Linked DNA regions of Homo sapiens. The protein of the gene in region 1 purifies or fractionates together with the protein of each later gene. This does not show direct contact. Each region holds a gene or a part of one and is shown on either strand. Other genes may lie near its edges.

Region 1 (3,500 bases):
TAAATTAGTTCATCATTCATACTGTTGAGGTATTATTTAGAATTTTTAATTTATCTGTAAAAAAACCCGTCTAATTCTGATATAGTTAAAATGATCACATAGCTTTTCATATCAGAATTATTTGTATGTAAGAGAAGAATGTCATGGTTCCCTAATCATTGTGAATCCACATTTTCTTGATTCACCATTTATGAAAATGCTCTTATTCACAGTAAGAGTTCCTCTGAAAATTTACAAAGATAATCATGAAATCAGTTGTAAACAAATTCATGATTTTTCTGATGGCTTAAGTTATAATTTCTTATACTGGATAAATTAATACACTTTCTTTGCGGTTGTGGAGAAAATCTGAAGGTACTAGTAACTAATTTTGCATTTTAATAACATGCCGAATATCAATGCTATGTAATGAAAAATAACATCCAGATTGTCTTTCTGGTAATACTTCTTTTGATAGTTCTTAATTATTCCTAAAAGAAATTCTTCATGCGATGATGTAAGAAATTGAGGAACAAATTATACAATCAAATCAATATATCAAGTGAGCAATGTATGGTTCATATTTTTAAATTATATCATTTCAATATGATTTGATAATTTATTTGATATTATAATGAAGATAAATTAAGTTTAGTAATAAGTAAATATATTGCAAGTATATGTGCAGTGTAATTTTCAAAGACAAGTAAGCTTGACATTTTTAAGACCCAGATTTAAGGGAAGACAGAAACAAAAACGAAAAAGCTTACTTGAACACCAGCCTTTTAATGTCATAAAATGCATATGTTAAACACATTTCAATCAAATGGCCTGTAGTATTATACAATTTTCTATATTTTTATTCAAAAAATATTTTCCTAATTAGGCTGCTACTATCAATTTGCTAAACAAATATCACTTCAAATTTTCACTTAATTGTACTTCCCAATCTTAATCATTTTTCAAACAAATGGATCAAAGAGAGTTATCTTGAACGCAGCAGCTAAATTGTATATTTACTAACTCTTTTGACAAGCACCTAAACATTCATTATTGTTCTTTTTGAAATCAGTGATTCACTTGTTTTTTAAGCCTGATGAGTTTGTGTAGCAGAAAAACATTTTTCAGAGTAGTTTCATAAATATGTCTCTGAAATGAAAAAATAGGCAAAACCAATCACTGTGAGAAAGGAGGTAAACAGAGATTCATGTGGGGAGTAGAAACAAACAAACTAGAAAATGTGACAGCCCCAGAGGTGGCCTGTGTTCCAATTACACTGATGCACTTCCCTATAACACCTTATTTACTAAAAGCCAATAGCTGATTTTAGCCTGTCACCCCATTCAGTGATGGGAGAGTATATGGTGTTCTGTGCAGTCCACTGTAAAGGTAGCTAGAGACTCAGTTACTGAGTCGGCACCTAACTGTGGACCTTCTTAGTGCCAACTGTGCGTATTATTTACCTGTAGTCTGAGTCGAAAATAAAAGGGGTTGAGAAATATTTCTTGTAATGTGTGTGTGTGTGTATGCGTGTGTGTGTGTGTTCACAATACACCCTCCTCCCTGCACGTTTGGAAATACTTGCCTAAAATCCTAATCTAAGGCTTTGGTTGAATGTACTCATATACATTTGGCTGATAACACAGGTGAAGTTCTATGGAATCCAGATACCATGCTAACACTGCAGCTCTCCTGAAAGGGCTAGAAAATGAGAGTTAATAAATTTTGAGTGCTTCACCCTTTGGGCCCAATTAAATTTTAGTGCCAGTTAATTAGCGGTTAAACTTATTTCAGTTCATTTATCTAGAGAAAAAGCCTTATGGAAAAGGACATGATATTGTAATCACCTTTGTTTAAAGAAAACCAAATAATAAAATACAAGCCAAAAACATAAATAGGAGATGCTTTGTCTCATTAAGGAATTGTTCTTAAAATATATTCTTTTAAGAAAGTGAACATAATTATTCCTTTTACTTTAACTTTACTAATCAATTTAAGTGTGTAGGCTCCTGAAGCTACTTAACTGTAGGAGAATATGGTATTAACCTGCTTCATTAAAAATGAACGAGGGGTAAATCAACAGCTACTTAGCGTAACAGAAAATCGGGCTAAATACTGTTGGTAAATGATATTTGTCTCACTGTGACTGCTTAGATTCATTACCAAAAATAACGCAATAAAGTTTCCAGATGTTGAAAATGAGGGCTGCATTTTCATACGGGATACTGAAGTGAAATTTAAAAACCAGAGCTATCCCTCTTCAAGATTTTAGTGGATGTTTTAGGTGCTTGCAAATCTGAAACAATTATTGATGCTGCTGTTTGAAGCTTTTCAATGGCTTCACTGTAAAAATGTGGAACTCATCAAATCTCCAAACTTCTCCAACATATTTATTTACATTGTTGTGCTATTTACTGTAACATTTTAAATAAATAAGTACCTGGCCGATGTGATGACTAGTCGTATTCATTTCCTCTGGTACAAAAAATTGGTTCCACACCCAGCCACGCTTCACTCTCAAATGAGATCGCACTGGCTGCTTGACTTTCTTTGTTTGAGAGTTTTCTGTTGCTCCAAGACAAGGCCATAGGAGAGGAATTCCCAACATAAAACGCAGCAGTAAATAACAGTTCATTGCGTTGACTCTTTTGATTCCAACTATTACTCTTCAGAGGAAACAGGACGTCACTAACAAAAATCTTGCTTTCTTTTATAATCTTTTCTGATTCTGTGTACCTTCTATATACCTAAAGCGTCAGAAACAAAACAAAATTTGACATTTTAAAATAACATTTTCTCACATAATTACTAAAGACAGGTTACAACTTCTGCATCTGACAAAAGTGGAATAAAAATAAACATTTAATTTATCTTCCAATTAAGCTGGCTAATTATGATTTGTAGCTCAGCAATAATTTGATTAGAATAATTATAAATTTCCACTCAGGCACTGCTAGTTTTAAACTGCAGTCATAAATCTGCCTGAAAGTTGAAAGATTGCTCTGGGAGTCTCCTGGATTGACAGCTGACATTGAGATAGACTTCCTTTTAATTTGACTTGCTTACTTTCTCCATTCTTTCTCAGTAAAATACAAACTATCTCATTAAAGCAACAGTCAATCCAGGAGGAAAAAAGTCTTATTTTTCCTTTTTATATTTGATAGAGATAAGCTTCCTCATCCAATTTCCCAAATTATGGTATTTTATGTAGTAATTAAATAGACAAAATGACAATTCAGCTTAAAACTGGTGAATTCAATAATCAGTTACACTGATACTATAAAACACTGAATAGAAAGCTTGCATAAGATATTTACTCTTTTTTAATTTCAAAGATATGGGGAAGAAGTGTTTATCAGCTTAACAAAAACAAAATCCTCTTAGGACAATAAATACAAAATGATTGTTCCTGGGTAAGAATGGGTGAATGTTTGTAATATGTAAGAATGATATGAAATGTATCTTCTAGTATTTAAATATTAAAACAAAAGACTCTGGCTATTGAGTTTTACATTTAAAAC
Region 2 (3,500 bases), on another chromosome or scaffold:
GAAATTTTGTCATTTAGGACTTGCTGCTCCCTTTTGTTACGTGACCTGCCTTCTTCTTCTGGAAATACTTCTTTTCTGTAACTCACTCTTATACTCAATCTATAACTTTGGAAGATTGCTGTCATACCTAAAATAAATTTTAAATATATTTTCACCACTAACTTATATGATCCATGCTAAAATGGGCTATCTCACATAATTTTTCAGAAATAGGAGTTTTGGTATAATCTCACTTTGATATTATTTTAGTTCTAATATGGTACTGCTTTAAAAAAAAAACAAAACTTAGAGAAGGCAGGTATTATACATAATCACCTCAGAAGACTGAGGAAAACACAATGAGCTCAGGATCATTTTTCTGAAAAATGTTGATGTGCCAAAGATACTAACTTACCAGCACAACACTGTTTCTTAAGGTTCTTGGAAAACGGGGTAAGAATGAATGAATGCTAGAGTTAAGGAATTACAAAAACATAGAAAGTCTGGTGGTTAAGGTAAAGAATAAGAGTGGCAGCTTGAGGTGTGTGTTTGTTTAGTATTAACTGCATATGAGCTGAGAGAAGGAGCCTGTTGGGGAAGAGAGATTAAAGAGGCAGAGGGATCACTGAAAGAGCAAGGTTACAGAGGAAGCCTCTGTTTTACAAGGTAGCAAGTTCAGAGTAACAGGCCCAACCACCACCCAGGCTGACTTACTATGCCATGAAAATGGCCTAAGTTTGAGAATGTGGGTAATATATAATAGAAGTATCCCTTTTTAAAAATTCTAAATTTTAAAAATATTCAGAACCAGAGATTTTAAGGAATTAGATATATCCCCTATACAGGACTGTGTTCATTCATCTTTGAATTATTAAAATAGTGTTTTGCTTATAGATCAATGAGTGACTGTTAAACCACAAAGAATCCAGAATACAATAACATTTTCATTTATTTTTAAAAGACACTTATACTCACTACAGACTGAAAATATTCAGGAGAGATGCCTTCCAATTCAAGGATTTTATCCTCAAGTTTTTTAATTCTCTGATAAATGTCTCTTGGCACTGGACCACCTAAATACATTAAAAAAAAATCTGAGATACTATTGAATAATTCTTTCTTTTCACAATTTTTATTCTTAAAATACCATGCAAAGACACTTATGCAAAGGAATGGAAAATACTTAAGAAAATAAAAAACAAAAGTAAAACAGAATGAAGTCCTTAGGTCGTATTTTTGTATTATACACTATCGGACATATTGTACTACACTTCCTCTCTCCAAACCCCATTTATGCTTCCTATATTCTAGGAGTTTCATGTTAAATTCATTTTACAAGATATTGAATAGCTTCCATGTAGAACAATTTATATTTCTGATATGCTTTGATAGTTACATGGGAGGACAAAAATGCATAGTGACAAATGACGATAATTCAATGCAGTGGTTGCAATATGTCATATTATTTTCTTCAATTAATATTTCTCCCTACATGCCATATTTTTCCTTTGACCTAAAAGAATGTAAAAAAGGGGCTTTACCATAATTCTAAACTAACAAACTTTCTGAGGAGGGGAAGAGTAAATTATGGCCACTCAAATTTTAAATTTATGATTATATCAAGAATCCTTCTACTTCTCACCCCCTCCACACTGTGGCCTTTCTGGTCCAGACCACTTCCACCTCTCCCTGGATTACTGCAACTCCCAAACTGGTCTCCCTGTTTCTGCCATGCTTCCGTAGAGTGTATTTTCAACACAGGAGCCAGTGATCCTCTAAAAATATAAGTTAGATCACATCATTTCTCTGCTTCCAATACCTGATCATTTCACTGAGGTTAAATACCTTCCAATACCTGATCATTTCACTCAGATTAAATACCAAAGCCCTCACAATGGCCTACAAGGCCATACACAATGTGGATATTCTCCCTATGCCCACATGGTTCCAGCCACTTGATTACTTTTTTTCTGTTATTCAAAGAGGCCAAGCACCCTGTAAGCTTCAGCTGGTTCCCTCTACCGCCATAATCCCAAGTCAATTTCAAGTCTTGGCTCAAAAGTTACCTTATCAGTAACACCTTCTCTGACTATTCTGTTAAAAATACCAGTACTACCACTCCCCTACCCAGCACTCCCTTATCCTCCTTACCTTAATTTTCTCCATTCCATTACTACCACCCAACATTCAGTATATTTTCTTTCTGTATTATTTGTTTCCCCATTCTAATATAAGCTCCAAGAGGACAGAGTTTTATCTGTTTTGTTCATTAGGTAGGGCTGTGCAGCTTGTGCACTGCACAAACCTAGGAAGCATCAGTTCATAAGACTACAATGCATGGCAAAGAGCTGGTGCTTGATATTTACTGACTGAATGAATACATGATTAGCCAATCATTATGCAATTAAAGAATACGGGTAAATTTCTATATCAAAATTGTCAACTTGTTATGTAAAAATTCTAGAAATTTTGAGGATTTTAAGAAATCTTAGGACCTTGGTTGTTCTTGTTCTTAAATAAGTTAACTTGTTCATTTGACTTTGCTTTTGCTGCTCCCTTTACCTACAATGTCCTCTGCCTTACTTCTGTATCTTTCAAGAGCCAGTTCAAGCTTCACTGGGTAACGCAGGCACTGCCGAAACCTCTTCATTCGCATAAAGGCTCCTTGTGCCCCCACCATTCTTCAGTGCTCCTGAGTTTTTTGGGACAGACTCTCACTATACTGTCCAGGCTGGTCTCAAACTCCTGGACTCAAGCTCTGTTCCCCACTCAGCCTCCCAAGGAACTGGGATTATAGGCACACACCACTACACCCATCCTTTCATTACTCCTTTAAAACTCTACTTCACTATTAATCTTTCTCTCATTTGGATTATAAAGTCCTTGAAGCTGGGGACTATGATTATATCATCTCAGTATCCCTTGTGCCTAAAATAGTGCTTGGAGCATAGTAAACATTCAACAGATATTTTTCCAAAAACTTAACTGTTTCATACTATTATTAGAGACTTAACCAGTCAATCCTTTTATACAGTGGCATTTTAAACCCATCCACTTCTGAGGGAAGAGATTAATTCTTAATGCCAGTGTCTTATTACTCTCAAAGACTTACTCATTCTGTTTTCTTCTTCTACCTTCATCTGGCTAGCATAGCTTCAGATAGCTAGTATACTCCAGCTATACTGGATTCAGATATCTCCTGAACCATATTTTGTGTTTTTGTCCTTTTTTGCAAATGGTGTTTCTTCTTTTTGGAATGCTTTGCTCTGGAAAATTCCTACTAATCCTTCAAGGCCTCAAATGTCACTTCATTAGGATGCCATCATCCCTTGACCTACCCTGAGAGAGTCAAACACTAACTTTCTGTCCCTCCGTACATACATCTGCAAAGGTGAAATAAGCAACTGTCCATTCAATAAACATTTGAGCACTTGCTTTGTGCCAGGCACTGTAATAGGTACAAAGAAATGAATATGACAGACATAGTTGCACTCTCACGGACTATCTAGCAGGAGACAGAC

What was found.
Region 2: the proteins of CDH19 (region 1) and MBIP purify together in Homo sapiens (affinity purification with mass spectrometry; 2 studies listed by BioGRID and IntAct, with this or other methods). This does not show direct contact.

What each region holds. Positions count from the first base shown.
Region 1 is NC_000018.10:66,569,591-66,573,090, forward strand, and holds part of CDH19 (cadherin-19 isoform 1 preproprotein), read right to left. Parts: intron 2,727-3,500; 5' UTR 2,615-2,726; coding exon 2,420-2,614; intron 1-2,419. UniProt on the Homo sapiens protein: Cadherins are calcium-dependent cell adhesion proteins. They preferentially interact with themselves in a homophilic manner in connecting cells; cadherins may thus contribute to the sorting of heterogeneous cell types.
Region 2 is NC_000014.9:36,307,138-36,310,637, forward strand, and holds part of MBIP (MAP3K12-binding inhibitory protein 1), read right to left. Parts: intron 1,053-3,500; coding exon 955-1,052; intron 1-954. UniProt on the Homo sapiens protein: Inhibits the MAP3K12 activity to induce the activation of the JNK/SAPK pathway. Component of the ATAC complex, a complex with histone acetyltransferase activity on histones H3 and H4.